Linked DNA regions of Homo sapiens. The protein of the gene in region 2 purifies or fractionates together with the protein of the main gene of each other region. This does not show direct contact. Each region holds a gene or a part of one and is shown on either strand. Other genes may lie near its edges.

Region 1 (7,114 bases), on a different chromosome or scaffold from region 2:
CTGATAACATCTTATATATAGAAATCTCATATATCTTATATGTCTCTCTATATTATATATATATTTATATATCCCTATAGATCTCTCTGTATATCTTATATACATAGATATTATATATCTATATTTTATATACATATCTATATTATATATAGATCTTATATATAGAAAACATATATAGAAAAATTCTTCCCTTCCTATTTGGATGACTTACTTCCTTTCCTTGCATAATTGCTCTGGCTAGGACATCTAGTACTACACTGAATAGACAATGTGAGAGTGAGCATCATTGTCTTGTTCCTGATCTTAGAGGAAAAGCATTCAACTTTTTACCGTTGAGTATGATTTAGCTGTGAGTTTGTCATATTTGGTCTTTCTGTGTCACAGTACTTCTATACTTATTGAGAGTTTTTATTATGAAAAGATGTTGAATTTTGTCACATGTTTTACTGCATCTTTTGAGGTGATCATACAGTTTTTGTCCTCCATTTTGTTAATATGGTATATCTCATTTATTGATTTGTGTATGTTGAGCCATCTTTGCATTCCAGGGATAAATCTCAATCATGATGAATGATCCTTTTAACGTGTCAGTGAATTCAGTTTGTTAGTATTTTGTTAAGAATTTTTGCATCTATGTTCATCAGGGATATTGGTCTGTAGTTTTTCTTCTTGTAACGTCCTTCTCTGGCTTTGGTATCAGGGTAATACTGGCCTCCTAAAATGAGTTTAGAAGTATTTCCTCCTCTTTAGTTTTTTAGAAGAGTTTGAAAATAATTGGTATTGGGAGGCCGAGGCAGGCGGATCACGAGGTCAGGAGATCGAGACCATCCTGGCTAACACGGTGAAACCCCGTCTCTACTAAAAATACAAAAAATTAGCCGGGCGTGGTGTCGGTTGCTTGTAGTCCCAGCTACTCGGGAGGCTGAGGCAGAATGGCATGAACCCGGGAGGTGGAGCTTGCAGTAAGTGGAGACGGCGCCACTGCACTGCAGCTGGGGGGACAGAGCGAGACTCCATCTCAAAAAAAAAAAAAAAAAAAAAGAAAATAATTGGTATTAGTTCTGCTTTAAATGTTTGGTAGAATTCAGGTCATCAGTGAAGCCATCAGGTTCTGAGTTTTCTGTAAATTTTTTTCCCTCAAATTTCTGATATAATCTTTCACTTCTATCTTTCAGAATTGGTAGGGTGCCCCCCTTTTTCACAGAGAACATACAGGCTTTTAAAAAAAATCTGTTAGGTGAGTTTCAGATTTCATGAAAAGGCATCGTTAAATGACATTACTTGGATTAATGTCAATTTATAAGAACCTGCCTAGCACCCAAAAAGCTCCCAATGACTGATCAATGAGTTTATTTCCTCCCTCAAGGCCTCTTTTCCCACCTGGAAGATAAAATCAAGGCAGGAGTCTTCACCCAGGGTAACTTTCACCCTGAGTCCTCTTTCCTCTAACTGTCACAATGGTGCCTTGTCACCCTTCTGACATTGCTTCTAAATTTGAACAGGGTTGTAACCTTGTGGAAACTAGAACCACTGCCTGCCCTGACACCCTGGAAAAGCAGATACATGTTGGCACAAAGGATGTTTTCAATAAAGACTTTGTAGTAGTATCTTAAAAGACTATTTAGTAGCAAATACTAAATTGTATTTAGACTTTTAGTCTTAAAATACTTTGTAGTCGCAAATAAAGACTAAGAAAATAGTTTTATGTTATGAACATTTACGATCTTGGGAATAATTCCAGGTGACATTGTTCTTAATTTCTTTTAAATTCTTAATGACTTTTACAATCCTACCTTCATGCCTGATAAAAAAAAATGACAGTTTATTCAGTAGTTTTTTTGAATTCTTTTACAGTAAATGGAAATGTTTTCTAACATATAAAAACCTACAGAAGAAGAAAATAATTTTCTGGATCAAATTAGAAGTCTGTATTATATTGATGTCTCCAGATTCAAATATATTAGAAAGCAGCCGTGGAGACAACCATCTTCATTTTGGGAGAAATAACTAAAGGTATGTATTAAGCTCAAGATGATAGCCTAAGTAACTTCATGCAGCATATAAGAAGCTTTTAGTTACTGTTAGGCAGTATTCAGAGTTTTGATCTTCACAATTTTCATGACATGCAAGTTTAATAATTGTCATCTCTAACGATATTTTTAAAACTTCATGCCCCTAATTATTGAAGCTGGGTGATAAGAATATAAGGGTTCCCCATACTACACTGTTTATTTTTGTATATGTTTAAGTTTTTCCAGATTTTAACAAAAAACCCACAAACTATATTAACACCTCATTTGTTCCTTACTGAGTTTTCCAGGTAAATTGAAGTTTGTCAAAAGTTTATCATGCCCATGCTAGTTGAAGATCATGGCAATCCATTTTCCTCAAGCTTTCTTTAAATCAAGCACTGGAGTGATATTCATGTTGGTTGGATGTCACCATTGTCACTGAGTCTGGGAGCTGCTCACCAGAGTGGCTGCTGGGGCCCATGAGTCTGTTCACTTCCCTCTAGCAGCCAGTCTGCCTGCCTTCCCTGCAGAAGTAACTTTAGGCAGCCAGACAGCCTTGTCCCCTGAGGTTGTTCTGGAGACACTACACCATGTTTCTCTAACCTCTTCTCTTTTTGAGTGTCAATCTTCTTCTACAGTCTTTTTGATTGCAGAAGAGACAGGATACATTGAAAACGTGTTGACTTGCTTGCTTATTTGTAGGTGAGGTTTATCATATTACTCCTTACGCACTGTAAAATTCACGCTTTTTATTATACAGTTCTATGAGTGTTGAAAAAAATCACAAAAATAAAGATAATGTAATTTTACGTTGCTCTAAAAATTTCTCTGCTCCCCCTTACTCCCCCGACCCCTGTCCCTGGAAACCACTGGTGTGATTTCTGTACCAACAGTTTTGCCTTTTTAAAATGTCTTATAAATGGTCTCAAAAACTATGTAGCCTTTTGTATCTGGCTTCTTTCACTTAGCATAATGCTTCTCTGTCTCTCTTTCCCTCTCCCTCCCTCTGTTTCTTCCTCTCTTTTTCTCTTTCTCTCTTTCTCCCTCACTCTCGCTCCTGCTCTGGCCTTCTCTCCTTTCTTTGACAGGGTCTCACTCACCCAGGCAGGGAGTCCAGTGGCACAATCATGACTCACTGCAGCCTCAACCTTCTGGGCTCAAGTGATCCTCCTACCTCAGCCTCCTGAGTAGCTGGGACCATAGGCATGCACTGCCATGCCCAGCTACTTTTTTGTAGAGATGGGGTCTCACTTTGTTGCCCAGGCTGGTCTCGAACTCCTGGGCTCAAGTGATCCTCCTGCCTCAGCCTCCCAAAGTCCTGGGATTACAGGTGTGTGCCACCATGGCTGGCCCTTTTTTTTCTTGTTGTGAAGCAATTTTATTTTGAAATAATTTTAGGCTTACAGAAATGTTGCAAAAATAGTACACAGAGTTCTCATTATACCATTTACCCAATTTCCTCTAATGTTCACATCTTACCTAACTAGAGTGCAATGATCTAAACCAGGACAAGTACTACACCTAGACATTTACATATACAGTACTAGTAACTAATTTACAGGCTTCATTCAAATTTTGCCATTTGTCCTACTAATGTCCCTTTTCAGGTCTTGAATCCAGCCCAGGATCCCACGTAGCATTTACTTGTCATGTCTCATTAGGACCTGGGACAGTTTCTCCAGTTCTTATCTTTCAAAACTTTGATACTTTTCTGAAGAGTATTGGCCAGTTTTGCTGTAGAGTGTGTAGAACGCCCCTCAGCTTGAGTTTGGCATTTTCTCATAACTAAATTGCAGTCATGAATGCCACACAAGTGATGCTTTGCCCTTCTCATTGCATCATATGAGGAGGTAGGTGGAGTCGCCATGTCTTATTACTGGTGATGTTAACTTTGATCACTTGGTTAAGGTGGTAGCTGCCAGCTTTTCTACTATAGAGTTATTATTGGATAACACTTTTAAAGATTCATTCATGCTGTTGAAGGTATTAGTAGTTTGTTCTTATTGCTGAAGAGTCTTCATGGTATGGATAAACCACAATTTGTTTACCCATTTATAAATTGATGGACATTTGGTTTGCTTCTAGTCTTGAGCCTGGCACTATCTGATAGGCCTTGGTGTTCTATTGAACATAAACCACGTCACAGAGCACCGATATCAGACAGGGCCACTCTGTGACCACAATGGGTCAGGACAAGAACAAGGCCACTCAGTAATCACGTCTGAACTGGGACCGAAACAGGAACATTGTTGAAGCCACAAAGATGACCAAACATCCTCCCATGCCGCTAACATGAGGGACTCCTGCTTGGCCACTCACAGCTCTAGCCTCTCTTCATTCCTTCCACCTTTTAGATAAGATCCATTAACAGCATCAAATCCAGAACAAAGCCCCACTTCCATGAACCTCTCCCCAACATGATCTAACACAAGCACAAATCCTCTAATCAGTCCATTCCAGGTTCCTAACAGATGCTGCAGTTCTTCATGGCGTGTTCTATCTCTCGCAACTTGCTCGAGTACAAGTGTGTTCCTTGGACTGGAAGGCATTGATAATCCAAACAATATATAAACACATATGGAAAATCCTTGCTCAGCTCTAATCTCCTTACATAGCGTTTCCCACCCTATACTCAATTCTTTTTACTAATTTCTTGTGAATTCTTTTTTTGTTTTTATAGCAAATGCAAGAAAGTTAAGGTATATTCTTTTATCCCCTTGCCTTTCTCTTACAAAATACAATTGTGGTAAAACACATGTAACAAAATTTAGCATTCTAACCATTATTAAGGGTACAGTTCAGTCTATTCGCATTGTTGTGTAGCTAATCCCCTGAACTCATTTCATCTTGTAAAACTGAAGCTCTATACTCATTATTTTTAAGTAAAATATGTGTCTAATAAAATTAACCCTTTGTTAGTATTGAGTTTTATGAGTTTTGACAGATACAGTCATGTAACTACTACCACAATCGAGATATATAACAATACCATTGCCTCCCACCAAAAAAAAAAAAAAAAAAAATTCCCGCATGCCCCTTTTTAATCACTCCTCCCCTTTCTGGCAACCACCGTTATATTTTCTGCCCCCACAGTTTTGTTGGACAATCAGTGTCATTGTTCCAAATGTTGTCTTTCTCTGTGTTTGTTTTCTTTTTATAAAATTCCTCAGGTATAGACAAAGATTTACTGAATGTGCCTTAAGATCCACGAGTTTCTGTGACACGATGTTATCTTAATACTATTGTCACAGTACACTTCTTTCCTTCAGAATTTAGTTCTCAGTTAGAAATTACATTCTCACAGAAACTACTTTGGGCTGGGCATGGTGGCTCATGCTTGTAATCCCAGCACTTCGGGAGGCCTAGGTGGGTGGATGGCTTGAGCTCAGGAGATCAAGACCAGCCTGGCCAACATGGTGAAACCCTGTCTCTACCAAAAATACAAAAATTAGCCGGGCATGGTGGCGCGTGCCTGTAGTCCCAGCTACTGGGGAGGATGGGGTGGGAGGATCGCTGGAGCCCAGGAAGTCAAGGCTGTAGTGGGCCGTGATCACGCCACTGCACTCCAGCCTGGGTGACAGAGTGAGACCCTGTCTGAAATAAAAGAAAGAAACTGTACTTTGACCGCAAGTTGAGAGACTAGTGGTGGTTTTCATACCTTCTTTTTTTTCTTCTTTGTTCTTTTTTTTTTTTTTTTTTTTTTGAGATGGAGTTTTCCTCTTGTTGCCCACGCTGGAGTGCAATGGTACAATCTCGGCTCACTGCAACCTCTGCCTCCGGGGTTCAAGTAGTTCTCCTGCCTCAGTTTCCTGAGTAGCTGGGATTACAGGCATGCACCACCACTCCCAGCTAATTTTTTGTATTTAGTAGAGACAGGGTTTCACCATGTTGGTCAGGCTGGTCTCAAACTCCTGACCTCAGGTGATCCACCCATCTCGGCCTCCCAAAGTGGTGGGATTATAGGCGTGAGCCACTGCACCTGGCTTCATACCTTTTGAAAAGCAGCAAGTTTTCAAATGAATTCTCATATTTAACCCTTTCTTGTGCATTTTAGTGGTCCTCAAACTTGAGTAGTTACTAGAATCACCTGGAAATAGATGATGGGGTCCACCCCCAGAGTTTCTGATTCAGCAGCTCTGAGGTGGAACCAGAGGCTGCATTTCTAACAAGATTTCAGGTGATGGCGACGCTGCTGGTCTAGGGAACACGCTTTGAGAAGCACTGCTCCAAGGCACCTCTGCACCTCTAGGAGCACTTGAGAACACAAACGGAAAACAGCCAGTTCAGAGGATGATCTGTTACTAAAGATTTTTTAAAGGACATTCGTGTATGTGTGCGTGTGGGTATAATATAATATACATGATGCGTTTCTGTAATATATAAAATATAAATATTTATACATATTTCCATATATAAAAATATTTGCTGATTGTTTCTACACTATTTGTTTTTGTGATTTTTCTAAAGCCCGCCTCAAGCATTAGAACTACAGACAAACCCTGATGCGACCTCTCCAGATTGTCCCAAGTCGATTGATTTCCCAGCTATATTGTGGCCTGAAGCCTCCAGCGTCCACACGAAACCAGATTTGCCTGAAAATGGCTCGGCCAAGTTCAAGTAAGTCATTTTACCCATTGCCTCACCTGCAGCCAAATGTGAAGTACCTGAAAGTCCTACACTTCGAGAGGAATGTCTCTGTCAAATTAGGTATTGGGCAAGGTTTTGGAGAAAGCCACTCTGTCATCTTCTCTTTTTTTTTTTGAGACGGAGTCTTGCTCTGTCGCCAGGCTGGAGTGCGGTGGTGCGACCTCGGCTCACCGCAACCTCCGCCTCCTGGGTTCAAGCAGTTCTCTTGCCTCAGCCTCCCGAGGAGCTGGGACTGCAGGCACATGCCACCACAACCAGCTAATTTTTGTATTTTTAATAGAGATGGGGTTTCGCCATGTTGGCCAGGATGGTCTCGATCTCTTGATCTCGTAATTTGCCTGCCTCAGCCTCCCAAAGTGCTGGGATTACAGGCATGAGCCACCGCGCCCACCTGTCCTCTTCTCTTTTAGGTAATCCCTTCTAGGGCACCTTCAGAGCCTATCTCCTTAATACTC
Region 2 (7,114 bases):
TAGTACTATTACACCACCACCACTGCATTTCTGGAATGCCAGTGCACAGTTGCAGAAATCCTATTTGTGAACAACATGACCATGACTGAAATTGCTGGCCAGGATCTTTTTCTGGGATCCTAACAGGCTTACATGACAACCATTTCTTAGCTTTTTTACGCGCTCAGTTCTCATTGAGCTAGTTATCTCATCAAGGGACTCAATCCTCTATATATGCATAAGTGTACATAAATTAGTCCTTATGAAGCACTCCTAGTTTAAGGTTTGCAATTTTTTCATGTATTTGTTACGTTGCCCTTTAAGGTAAAATTTGTAGTTTAAGAAGCTAAGAGGCTTTTTAAAAGCAAGAATAATATGCTTATAGTGCCACTTTAATCAATTTATTTTAATTTTGGTGTGATTTTAAAAACCTTTCTCAAGAAAAAGCCCATGGGCCAGGTGCAGTGGCTCGCGCCTGTAATCCCAGCACTTTGGGAGGCCAAGGAGGGCAAATCCAGTCAAGAGTTCAAGACTAGCCTGGGCAACATGGCAAAACCCCATCTCTACTAAAAATATTTAAAAAATTAGCTGGACATGGTGGTACATGCCTGTAATCCCAGCTACTCAGGTGGCCTAAGCATGAGAATCGCTTGAACCCAGGAGGTAGAGGCTGCAGTGAGCTGAGAACGCGCCACTGCACTCCAGTCTGGGCGACAGAGCGAGACTCTGTTTCAAAAAAAGAAGCCTATGATTTAAATTATTCATAGAATAAAGTTGGAACATTCCAACAGACCAACATAAAAGGCTGAAGTGACTGTGCACATCTCTCAGTCTAGATATGTTGATTCCAATCTTGACTACGTTTAGACTAGAATCCAAATAGCCTGATTTCAAGTATAAAGCTTCTTTCACTAGAATATATTATTTGAATATGTCTTCAGTTTTGTCTTTACCCGATAATAATACAAGCATGCATTAGTGAAAATACATACCAAATTAATTTCTTCTGGATTGAAATCCTCAGCCAGGAAAGCAGTCCTAGTTAAAACTTCATGGCGCTTTGTTTCATGAATCTGGTCCAGTTTAGTCCCTATTACCAACAGTGGTATTTGGTTATCAGCAAACTGTTCTTGATCATAATCCCTGTGATAAATAATAATGAAGAGGTGAATAGAATGTATCTTTCTGGTGTAGATGTGTAATATTTAAGTGCAACTAAGTTACACTATTTTACTGAAAATTAACTGATTTTTGCTGCCTTCACCTACAAACCTACTTTCCTTCCAACTTCTTCCATCTACTTGTTCTTTTATCAATCCATCCTCATCATCAGATTCCAGCTATTCATCTAACTTCTCAAAATTTGGTCCCATGTTTTTATTGAATATTGAACAATACTGAATAATTGAACAACTAAGTGCCCATCAAGTATATTACAGTCAGTGGACTTAACTTCCAATGTAGCTGTGTCTTCTAAGGTTAACATAACAGCTCAGGAATATTTCAGAGTAGAAGCAGAGAGTGGATTTAAGCCTCATCGTAGCAAAAACCCAAAAGCCTAGCATGGCACTCAAGCCTTGTGCTAGAAGAGAAAATGGCAAGCTTCTTGGGTACCTTTTGGGGTATGCATTAATTCTATATCTACAATACACATTTCTGTCTGAATAGTAAAGAAATAAGAAGAATAAGAAAATAGAAATAGGGAAGCTGAAGCCTAGAATAAATCAAATATAGGTGATACTATAGCCTGGGAAAGGTGGATTAAACACATGGAAATGGAAGGAAACAGCTGAAATGCAAAATGAATAGTAAAAGGAAAGAACTTAGTACCAAGTAGTTGTTTCCTGAAATGAGAGCCATGGGAGATAGAGGACGGGCAATAAGAACCACTTAGGGTTAGTGGCCTTGGATCACTGGCTATTACAATCCTTATTTTTTAAAAAATTTATTTATCCAAAGAACAGAGTGGTGATGTAAATGATACTTCTCATTACTGAAAAGAACACAGAGGCCATTGCTGTTGAATTAATTTAAATTCTACTCACATATTAGAAATAAAACAGATTTGGATTTCTGACACGTTATAAGCTCAACTTACAACAGTCAGCAAAATCTGGTTGTGCACAATTTATGACAGTAAATCAATATTGCATAATCCAATCACTACAACCCAGTCGAGCATAGCTTTTTTTCTTCCTTTAACACTACTTTTCTTTCTCTTACAGAAATTCTAAATTGGGGTAGGGGGCAAAGTTACTAAGTATTTATGCCCTTCACAATAATCTTACAGCGCCTCAGCAAACTGTTCAGCCTCGGAACACAAGTGTTTTACTATACAACCTCCCATCTCACAAAAATATTACCATTCTATTTATTGCATCAAAGCCAATAATAGCATGATCAAGACCTTTGATTATTCATATCAACAGCAACTCTAATTAAAGAGACATGGTTCAAAGCTACAATTCGCTTTGTTAGGGAATGAAGTTTTGAGAGTGTCTTTCCTTTAGGACTGTTTCCTTCTGTCTCACATACAAAGTTTTGCATATCTTCTATCAAATATCATCTTTGATGTACATACATCTCTCATATAGTCTTGCACAATTCCTTGCACACTGACACATATAAAGCATACATATATAGTTTGCTCTCTTATTTCTCTTTTTAGCTTTCCTTTTAACTTTTTCATAAAATCTTGCAGCATCCAATTTAAAATTTAATCTTGAAATCTTCTTTGGTAAACTTCTGAAGAACTTTATCATGGATGGATAAGGCTGATAGCTCCTTAACATCACAAAGAGACACACAGCCAGGTATCATATTATATGCATAATACTGGGTGGAAAAATAAAGACAAAAAAACTTGCATCTTTCAGACCACTATATTTAATTATCACTTCAGAGAAGATTTAGAATTCAGAGAAACAAGTTTAAAAGACAATACAGGGAGACAATCAGCAAATCCAGAATATAGGAAACTGTACAAGACAAACAGCCATCTTCTTCTACAAATAAAGTGCTAGGAGGTTGGAAAAAAAACAACCAAAAAGGGAGAACCTAAGATTAAAAGATACTTAAGAAACCAAATACAACCAGTGGACCTTATTTAGATACTATTTCGAAAAAATCAATTATAACATTTATGAGACAATTGGGGAAATTAAAATAATATTTGGTTATTAAAGAATTATTATTAAAGTTTTAGCTGTGATAATTATATGGTGTCATGTTAAAAAAAAGCCCTTATGTTTTAAAGTATATATGGATGAAATGATATGATGTTTTAACATTTGGTTCAAAATAATCCAGTTGAGAGTGGGAGAAGATAGAAAGTGGGTAGAGATATGGATGAAACAAGACTAGCTATATGTTGATAATTGTTGAAACTAGGCAACGGGTATATGGGAGTTCATTTTCCATTCTTTGTATTTACATATGTTTAAAATTTTCTATAATAAAAAGTTAAAAAAAGTTATTGTGGTAAAAACTACATAATATAAAATTTACCTAAATTGTTTAAATATGGCTAAAAACTCAAACTGATATAAAAGATATATGCTAAGCAGTCTTGCTCCTACCACTGTACCCATCCACCCATCTCCCCTGGCCCCCTATAGGTTACCATTTTTATTAGTTTCTTATTTTTCACTGATTCTTTATCCAAATATAAATACATATTATTTCTTTTCTTTCTTATACAATAGGAGGTATACGATATATATTCTCTGCATTTTGATTTGTTAAACCTAATAATGTACCCTCTGTAGATCTTTCTATTTTAGTTCATAGAGATCTTCCTGATTCTTTTTTAAACATTGAATACTACTCCAGTATGTGGATATGCCATTATTTATTCAATGAATCTTTCGTTGCTCGGACACTAGGGTTGTTTCCAAATTTTTTGATGCTATACAATAATGCACCAACAAAGCACACCAATGTATTAAGGTTGTTTTATACATTTGCAGGTTTATCTATAGAATCAAAATGAAACTGTAGTGTCAAAATGCAAATGGGTATAGAACTTTTACTGAATTCCCTGACAAAAATGCAGATTTCTTTCTGATATGAATATGCTGTCTCCTAACCCTAAATTTAAGGATAAGTTTCTTAAGTAGAAATTTTAGTAGAAAATAGAGAACAAGCTAGGTTAATGAAGACATCAGTGATGAAAGGAATTGAGATAGGAAATAAATATCAATGAGGCTTTGAAATATAGGTTTTAAATTAGTTGTGCTTATTCTTTATTAGGTCTTGCTGGAATCTACATATATATACTCAAACTTATACTATATTTAGGTTTCACATAACAATTAGACTTCCACACAGAAAACAAAGCCTTTGAAAGACTTGCTTCAATCAAAAGATAGAAAATGGGGTTCTGTTCTAGGTAAGACAGAATAAGCAAACTCTATCCTGTCTTTCCCAGTGAATGCAACTATAAAACCTGGACAGGATACATGAAGTGGCTATTTGAGGACTCTGAAAAATTAATAGTGAGCATATTAAGGAAGACTGCAATGTGAAGAACCATTGAATTAGCAGTTTCCTTCCATATCCCCTTGTCTGAATGCAACTCAGCTTAAAACCCAAAAGTGTGAACAGAATACTCCAGAAGAAGGCCTATAGTTCTGGCTCATGAAACAAGAAAGGGGACACACGAATACTTGGAGATAGTGTAGAAATACAATATTTTTCCTTCTGTTGTAAGCCAGCTTCTGAGCAATTTCATGACAGTTGTGGCAAAGGCTATAACACAAGCAGAATGCTCAAAAACAACAGTCCCCAACCTTTTTGGTACCAGAGACTAGTTTCATGGCAGACAATTTTTCCATGGACAGGTGTTTGGGGGATGGTTTCAGGATGAAGCTGTTCCACCTCAGATCATCAGGCATTAGTTAGATTATCATAAGAAGCCTGCAACCTAGATCCCTCACATGCACAGTTCACAATAGGATTCACGCTCCTATGAGAATCTAATGCCTCTGCTAATCTGACAGGAGGTGGAGCTCAGATGGTAATGCTCACTCACCTGCCACTCACCTCCCACTGTGTGGCCTGGTTCCTAACAGGCCATGGACCAGGGGTTGGGAACGCCTGCTTACAAATACAGAGGAAGGGAAATTTTTCTTTTTTTTTTTTTTTGAGACGGAGTCTCACTCTGTTGCCCAAGCTGGGGTGCAGTGGCGTGATCTCGGCTCACTGCAAGCTCCGTCTCCCAGGTTCATGCCATTCTCCTGCCTCAGCCTCCCAAGTAGCTGGGACTACAGGCGCCCGCCACAACGCCTGGCTAATCTTTTGTATTTTTAGTAGAGACAGGGTTTCACCATGTTAGCCAGGATGGTCTCGATCTCCTGACCTCATGATCCGCCCGCCTTGGCCTCCCAAAGTGCTGAGATTACAGGCGTGAGCCACCGCGCCGGGCCCAGAAGGGAAATTTTTCTGACTGATGGAACTGTATCTCAAGACAGTGGGGCAAACTCCCATTGCTTTTATTCTTTGTCCTTCTACCACTTGGCCCTGGACATAGGTGCAGTTGTGCAAGTGCATGAGAAAATTTGGCCTGGGGACCGAAAAAGGGAGCCCCAGCAAATCACAAAGTATGGCAGAGACTGTAGACAGGGTGAAGTGTGAGAAAGCAACCCCATGAAGTAGTTCGTGAATGCTTGAGCTCATTGCCAAAGCTGTGCATGCATGGATTTGATCCTACTTAGTGTACCAAAGACACTGAAAACTGAAACAACAGAGACAACAACACCCAGGTCACATACCGGGTGTTGCACAAATATAAAATAAGTGAAATCATATAAAGTATGTTCTTGGATCATAATAAAATTAAGCTAGAAGTCAATAGCAAAAAATAACTGGAAAGCCTCTAAATACATGGAAACTAAACAACACATTTCTAAACAGCCTATGGGAAAATCTCAAGGAGTATTAGAAAATATTTTGAACTAAATGAAAATAAAAGTAATACATTTAAACATTTGCAGGATGCAGCTAAAGCAGTGTTTAGAGGGAAATTTATAGCATTAAAATACTTGTATTGGCAAAAATGCAAGGTATCCAGTAAGTAATCTAAGAAGCTATAGAGAACAAAATAAACCAAAAGCAAGCAGAAGGAAAGAAATAAGAGTAGAAATCAATTAAACTGTATATGGAAAAACAATAGAGAAAAATCAATGAAACCAAAAGTTGCTTCTTTGGAAAAAAATCAATACAATTGATAAACCTCTACAAGTCTGACAAGAAAAAGAGAAGACATAAAATACCAAAATCAGAATGAAAAAGGTCATATCACTACAAACTGTGCAACTATCAAAAGGACAATAAACAAATACTATAAACAACTCTATTGATATACATTAAAAAATTTAATGAAATAGATGGAATTCCTTGAAAATCACAAATTACAAAAACTCATCCAAGATGAAATAAATAACTTGAACAATCCTAATTACTAAAGAAGTTGACTTTGTGGTTAAAAACCTTTCAAATAAGAAACCTCCAGGCCCAGATGGTCTCTTGGTAAATTCTACCAAACCTTCAAAGAAGAAATAACACCAAATATACTCAATTTCTTCCAAAAAATAGAAGAGGAAGGAATACTTCCAATTAATTCTATGAGGCCAACATTATCCTCACACCAAAACCAGTCAAAGACATTATGAGAACAGAAAACTACACACCAATGCCTGTCATGAACATGGATAAAAATCCTCAACAAAATATTAGCAAATCAAATCCAGCAACACATAAAATGAATAATACACCATGACCAAGGAATGGAAGGCTGGTTCAATATTTGAAAATCAGTGAATGTAATCCACCAGTATTGAAAATCAGTGAACGTAATCCACCATACTGACAGCCTAAAGAAGCAGCCACATGTCCATATCAATTGATGCAGAAAAGGCTTTTGACAGAATTCAGTATCTGTTCATGATATTAACAAAACTATCAGCAAATTAGGGATAGAAAGAAATGTTCTCAACCTGATAAATGATGTCAACAAAAAAAACCTAAAGCTGACATCATACTTAATAGTGAAATGAATGCTTTCCCCCTAAGATTGGAGTAAGACATAGATATTCACTCTTATCACTCCTAGTTAGTACCCTTTTGGAAGTTGCTG
Region 3 (7,114 bases), on a different chromosome or scaffold from region 2:
CCCTCTATACCGTCATAAGACTTATCAGTTCCAGAGTACACTCTTAAGTCCTAAGGTCAAGACTCTGTACAATTCTGAAAGTATCAAGTCTCATTTTTAATAAGAAGCTATACGCCTTCCATTTTATTTGCAAAGCTATTTGAAATTGCATTTTGCTTCTGCTTTCTTTTTGGATCCTCTATAATCTTGCCAGAATTTGTGTTTACTTGGATGTAAATGAATTCTCCAGCTACTTGTGTGTGTGTGTGTGTGTGTAGTTTAAGTCTTTTTTTTTTTTTCAACTTTTATTTTATTTTAGATTTGGTACTTGTGCCGGGTATATTGTGGGAGCTCAGGTTTGGGGTACAAATGATCCGGTCACCCAGGTACTGAGCATAGTACTCAATAATTAGTTTTTCAACCCTTCCCCCTTCTCCCCTCCCCTGCCCCCAAGTAGTCTCCAGTTTCTGTTTTTGCCATCTTTATGTTGGTGAGTACCCAATATTTAGCTCCCACTTAGAAGTGAGAACATGTGGTATTTGGTTTTCTGTTCTTGCATTAATTTGCTTAGGATGATGGCCTCTAGCTGCATCTATGTTGCTGCAAAGGACATAATTTTGTTCTGAAAGTCTTTTTAAGCTTTTCTTTTTCAATGTGAAAGGAGGCCACAATGAAATATTAAAGGTATATATCTGTTTCTCTTTTCTTCCATTCCCCTCCCCACCATATAAACTTAAAATTTTTGCTTGTTTTCTCTTCCATTTCATAGCAATCTTGGTGATTTTTTTTTTAATCATCCATTTCCACTATACATACCACCCTCAGTCCTAACTGCCCAACTTCTCTGTCTTCAGTCGTGGCTTCATAAGTCATATAAATATGGTCTCTAAACTCTGAATTTACATCTGTCTCCACCGGTAAATATTTATAATAGCCAAAGGATATCCTGGACATTTTCTCCTAATCTGTTTGACCCTTTCCTTTTCTGCTTGATCTAGATGCTTGGATCCAACTTACTTTCTTACACCCTCTTGTTCGTTTACCTTCATGTATATATAAGTCCACACTTGGATCACTGCTATAGTTTGTTTACTACTAATACAGAGGCCTGAAGGCTACTATAGAAAATCACATAGCTGTGTAGTTTGCCAACGCCAGGAGTTTAACCCTCAGCTCACTGAATTATTCCTTTTCTTGACCTTAATCAGCTACTTGTTTCATTCCCCTCAAAGTTTCTCCGAATCTTTGTCACTCTCCTCAAAGCTCCTTTTTCTAACTCACCTCTCTTACTCTTAGCAGATAACCTTGCCTCGTACTTACTCAACAAAAGTGAAGCCAAAAGGTATGATCTCCTACTATGAATACTTTCTGCATTTTAATCTAAAAGGTTATCTGTGTTCACAACCATTCTTACCTCCTTTCCTCCCATTTCAGAAAACGGGGTTCCCCTACTCCGGTTTAAAGCCATTCTACCTACCTTTGATCTTAGAGTAGCGTATTTTGAAGTGGTTAAAAGCACAGATTTTCTAAACAGACAGACTCAATAAGAGCTGAAAAAATAATATTTAAAAAAAAGCACAGATTTTGGAGTCAAACAAGCTTGAGTTCAATCTTGATTCTGACACTTACTATAAATTGATTAACTTCTCTAAACCTCATCTTTCTCCGTGAAAATAGGATAATCAAACCACTGTACTGAGTTTTTAATTATTTTTATAAGATTATAATGCTAAGTACTACTTAGAGAGCCTGTAGTATAGTAAATGCTCAATAAAAGTTACCTAATCATATTAATAATAGTATTATCAGTTTATCCTCTAGTATTCCACCATCCTTCTCATCTTTTTCTCCTTACTTGACTGCTTTCTTTCCCCTTGGCCAATAAACTTTCCCTTTATTCCACATTCTTCTCTAGCCTATTATCTAATGTTTTCTTTTTTTCTCATTCCTGGCTCTCCCTAGAGTAATTTGCATTTACTGTCCCCACTGCTTTAGCTCCCATTCATTCTGACCTGCTACACTCTGGTTCCTGCCTCTACCTCACTATTCAAAATTGTTTTCCTTATCCTCTAGTGTTTTCTTCTTGGCACATTGCTCTCCTTACTCTAGATACTATTCCCAGGTGATCTCATGTACTTTGGTGGTTTCAACTCATAGGTATATCTTAGACCTGCCTTCACAATCTGTCTTTTATTCCAGATACTTGCTGGATATCTTGATCCATCTTGCTGGCTGTCCCTCAGGCCCTTAGTGTGTTCAAAAATGAGCTCATCATTTTCCCCATCCTCTGCCCCCTTTCCTAAACCTCTTCTTTCTCCAGTATTCTTTATATAAATTGGGTAGCTTCACTCTTCATCCTGTATTCCAAACTAGTCATCCTTGACTTCTCCCTGTTGATTTTACCTTCTAAATAGTTCTCAAATCTGTTTTCTCCTCTTCTGTCACCAAATGTCTTAATTCAGGGCTTTATCATCTTTCATCTGAATTCCCATAACACATTTCTATAATGTTTCTCTTTCTACACTGTTGTTTCCTTCAAGTGTGTCTTCCATACAGCCACCATACCGCTCTATATAATATAAAACAAATCAGACCATGCCATTTCCCTGCTTAAATAACCCTCATCACCTACAGACTATAATCTAAGCTCCTTAGGGTGGCCTTCAAAGCTCTCAGTGATTGGACATCCACTCCTCCTGTCTAGCCTCATTTTTAACCTCTTCCTTCTTTGAATTTCATCTTCTAGCAGCACCAAACCATGTGTAGTTCCCGGCATATACCATGCTATTCACTCTGCGCCTTTACTCATGCCCTTTGCTATCTGGAAAGCCCTGTCCTCCTACCCCTACCACCTGTTTTTACCCTACCTGATTCGTTTTTTGTTTGTTTGTTTTGTTTTGAGACAGGGTTTCGCTCTGTCACCCAGGCTGGAATGCAGTGACATGCTCACAGCTCACTATAACGTCTACCTGCCAGGCTCAAGTGGCCCTTCCACTTCAGCCTCCCCATAAGCTGGAACTACAGGCACGCACCACCATACCTAGCTAATTTTTGTATTTTTTGTAGAGATGGGGTTTCACCACGTTGCCCAAGCTGGTCTCGAACTCCTGGGCTCAAGCGATCTACCCAAAGTGCTGGGATTACAGACGTGAGCCACCATGTCCAGCCTCCCTACTTGATTCTTATTCATCCTTTGAGAGGATGGTTTTTATGTTAGGGGTGGTGGAAACCTTTGACTGTGTGATGAATACCTTGAAACCACTCTAGAAAAATGCACATAACCCCAAAATGTGCATACAATATCAGGTTTTAACCCCAAATTAAAACTTCCTTCGGCTCGGGCATTATCTTCTCCAGAAAATCTGTCCTAACCCCTTACAGATTGGTTTGGTCTCCCTCTTTCATATTGTTTTACAATATCATGTATGTATTTCTATCATTGCACATCCATATTATGTTATAATTATTTATGTACTGTCTTCACTATATTGTGAGCTCCTAGAGGGTAGTAACCATCCTATTCATCTTTGTATCCTCAGCACTTAGCATAGCACGTAGGAGTTATTACAGAAAATTTAAGATTGAATGCTGAAGAATAAACCATCTTTTATGTAGACCACTTAGCCATTCAGCAAGCACTTATGGAGAGCCTGCTACGTACCAGGCTTTGTGCTGGATGCCAAGGATACAAAGATTACAAGACAAACATGGTTTTTGTCCTCATAGAGCTTATAATCTAATGTCAAAAAATATTTAAATCACACATTACAAAACTGTATGGTAAGCACTTTGATGAGGGAAGTACAATGTAAAACAGGATTATATAAAAAGCAATTTATCTGCATTTGGGAGGGCAGAGAGGGCCTTCCAGGGGGAGTAAATAGCATAACTGGGAGAGGGCTAGAGAGAAGTTCCTTTCAGAGGACATCTACACAGGTCTCGATGTGAAAGAATATGGATCTAAAGAACCAAAGAAGTTCCAGGGGGCTGAACACATGAGTTTGCTAGGCAGCAGGGGCATGATAAGAAGCTAAAGTAGTCTGTGCTAAACTACTGAGTTTACACTTGCTCAGTAAAGTAGTCCCTAGAAAGACATAAAATCATTTTATTCATAAAGGTCCTAGCCAGTTTAAGAAGAAAAGAGTAGTTGTGTCAGTGTGTATGTATAGAAAGTTCTGTTTACTACAGACCAGCTTTATCAGCTGTCATGTGGCTACGGTCTCTGCCAGTTTGAAACAAAACTGACGAAAGAGGGATCCTGCAATCTCTCGGCTTTACATTGAGATGAAAACCACTTTTATGTAGATTAGGCAGGATGGTGGAGAAGCTAAGAAAACTCTCTGAAGGAAACAGATATAAAAAATATTAGGCTTTCTACTACTCCTCTAATTTTGGTCTCAACTCCTCTCCCCTGAAGTTTTTATTTTTTAAATTAATTTATTTTTATTTATTTTTTGAGACAGGGTCTCACTCTGTTGCCCAGGCTGGAGCGCAGTGGTGCAATCATGGCTCACTGCAGCCTCAACTTCCTAGGCTCAGGTGATCTTCCCACCTCAGCCTCCCAGGTGGCTGGGACTACAGGCACACCCCACCACCCCCAGCTAATTTTTATGTGTGTGTGTTTTTTGTAGAGACGGGTTTTCACCATGTTGGCCAGGCTGGTATTATTTTTAAATACTTGCAATCAGGGATCATCCATAAGAAGCAAGTCTCACTCTGACACCTTTTCTTTTTTTTCGAGACCTAGTCTCACTCTATCACCCAGGCTGGAATGCAGTGGCACGATATTGGCTCTCTGCAACCTCTGCCTCCCAGATTCAAGCGATTCTCATGCCTCAGCCTTTGGAGTAGCTGGGAATACAGGTGCCCACACCCAGCTAATTTTTGTATTTTCAGTAGAGACGGAGCTTTGCCATGTTGGCCAGACTGGTCTTGAACTCCTGGCTTCAGGTGATCTGCCCACCTTGTCCTCCCAAAGTGCTGGGATTACAAGTGTGAGGCACCGTGCCTGGCCACTGACTCCTTTTCTATTTGCAAACTTCTCTGGCTCATATAATGATTATCATAAGATTATGGCAAAATATGTACTTCCATTTTTGTCTTAAAGCATACTCTGTAACATGGATAACTTCAAAACTCCAAGGGCATTTAAAAATTTATTTCCAATGTCATGAGCTTTAATAATAGGTCTTATAAGAGTGGATCTTATCTTTAATCCCTGAAATAAGTTAACCGTCTAGTTAGCAGACCTTTTATCATAAAAGAGTTTCTATAAAACATTTCTCAAAAGAAAATATGTATTGACATTCTATTTTCTTTCTCCTCCAGATACTATTTTTTGGATTTGGGTGGCTTTTCTTCATGCGCCAATTGTTTAAAGACTATGAGGTGAGAAGAAATCATTTTGTCATACTTACACTATATGATTTAGATTGACAAGAAAAATGTCTCCATTAAAGAAACATTATGTTCATTTCCAAGATAGGAAGCTTTTACCAAATAAGTACTATATAACTATTAGATTGCAGAATATAAGTAGACTTAATTGATTTAAAAGGGGGGAAAAAAGGCAAATCAAATATAGCCCAGAAGTTAGGAGCAAGGATTATGTCTTAGTCATATCAGGATATGTACCAATAGCAAATAGTTATTCTGTAGGAGAGAATTTAATTCATAATGTCTCACAAATGTTCCCTTTCATTTGTCTATCTGGCCCTGAATTGCAAACCTTATATTATAAGTTAATACCAAAATCCCAAGGCTATCAGGGGAACCAGTCCCCAATATTTCAACATAGGTTCTTTCTGTTTTCCTTAAGTGTCGGCCGGTCTGAGAAATAAAGAGAAAGAGTACAAAGAGAGAAATTTTACAGCTGGGCCTCCAGGAGTGCCATCACATATTGGTAGGACCGTGATGGTGACTCCGAGCCACAAAACCAGCAAGTTTTTATTAGGGATTTCAAAAGGGGAGGGAGTGTACGAATAGGGAGTGGGTCACAGAGATCACATGCTGCAAAGGGCAGTAAAATCACAAAGCAGAGGCAAAAATTAGAATTACTGATGAGGGTCTGTGTCCCACTGTGCACACATTGTCTTTATAAACATTTTAACAGGAAATAGGGTTCAAGAGCAGACAACCAGTCTGACTAGAATTTACCAGGCTGGAATTTCCCAATCCTAGTAAGTCTGAGGGCACTGTAGGAGACCAGGGTGTATTTTAGTCCTATCTCAACCGCATAAGACAGACACTCCCAGAGCGGCCATTCATAGACCTCTCTCCCAGAATGCATTCCTTCCCCAGGGTTATTCCTTGCTGGAAAAAGAATTCAGCAGTATTTCTCCTACTCGCTTTCTGCAAGAAGAAGAGTATGACTCTATTCTGCCCAACCCCGCAAGCAGTCAGACCTTATGGTTATCTTTCCGTGTTCCCTGAAAATTGCTGTTATTCTGTTCTTTTTCAGGGTGCACTAATTTCATATTGTTCAAACACACATGTTTTTCAAACAATTTGTACAGTTAACGCAATCATCACAGGGTACTGAGGTGACATACATCCTCAGTTTACAAAGATGACGGGATTAAGAGATTAAAGTAAGACAGTCATAAGAAATTTAAAAAGTATTAATTTGGGGAACTAATAAATGTCCATGAAATCTTCACAATTTATGTTCAGAGATTGCAGTAAAGACAGGTGTAAGAAATTATAAAAGTATTAATTTTGGGAACTAATAAATGTCCATGAAACAATTTATGTTCTTCTGCTGCGGCTTCAGCCAGTCCCTCCATTCGGGGTCCCTGACTTCCCGCAACACAAGGCTGGTGTTGTTTTTATCTTAAGCTTTGGATTCAGAAGATCACCACCCTAGACTCGACATTTCCTAGTTAGTTCTCCTAATTAGTAATAAGATCAGTGGTTATAGTCTACATTTGGGTCATTTCTAGGATATTCTCCATTAAACTTTCCCAGGGAGTTTATTGTCTGAAAGAGCCTGGGATTCTGGAGATTTTCTTCTGCCCAATACTTTAAGACCTCCCGAGGAAGGTTCCAGAACTGATCCAGGATCTGCAGAGTGTTGAAGAACCCCTTTAAACATTAACCATTATGTACGAATCTGTCAGTTTTTTGTCAGTATGCA

What was found.
Region 1: the proteins of RABL3 (region 2) and SIRT5 purify together in Homo sapiens (affinity purification with mass spectrometry; 2 studies listed by BioGRID and IntAct, with this or other methods). This does not show direct contact.
Region 3: the proteins of RABL3 (region 2) and GPR89A purify together in Homo sapiens (affinity purification with mass spectrometry, with the first as the bait; 2 studies listed by BioGRID). This does not show direct contact.

The regions. Positions count from the first base shown.
Region 1 is NC_000006.12:13,577,597-13,584,710, forward strand, and holds part of SIRT5 (NAD-dependent protein deacylase sirtuin-5, mitochondrial), read left to right. Parts: intron 1-1,175; exon of another isoform or gene 1,176-1,237; intron 1,238-1,854; 5' UTR 1,855-2,013; intron 2,014-6,479; 5' UTR 6,480-6,514; coding exon 6,515-6,629; intron 6,630-7,114. UniProt on the Homo sapiens protein: NAD-dependent lysine demalonylase, desuccinylase and deglutarylase that specifically removes malonyl, succinyl and glutaryl groups on target proteins.
Region 2 is NC_000003.12:120,697,452-120,704,565, forward strand, and holds part of RABL3 (rab-like protein 3), read right to left. Parts: intron 1,123-7,114; coding exon 972-1,122; intron 1-971. UniProt on the Homo sapiens protein: Required for KRAS signaling regulation and modulation of cell proliferation. Regulator of KRAS prenylation, and probably prenylation of other small GTPases. Required for lymphocyte development and function. Not required for myeloid cell development.
Region 3 is NC_000001.11:145,610,927-145,618,040, forward strand, and holds part of GPR89A (Golgi pH regulator A), read left to right. Parts: intron 1-1,275; exon of another isoform or gene 1,276-1,321; intron 1,322-5,307; coding exon 5,308-5,367; intron 5,368-7,114. UniProt on the Homo sapiens protein: Voltage-gated channel that enables the transfer of anions such as iodide, chloride, bromide and fluoride which may function in counter-ion conductance and participates in Golgi acidification.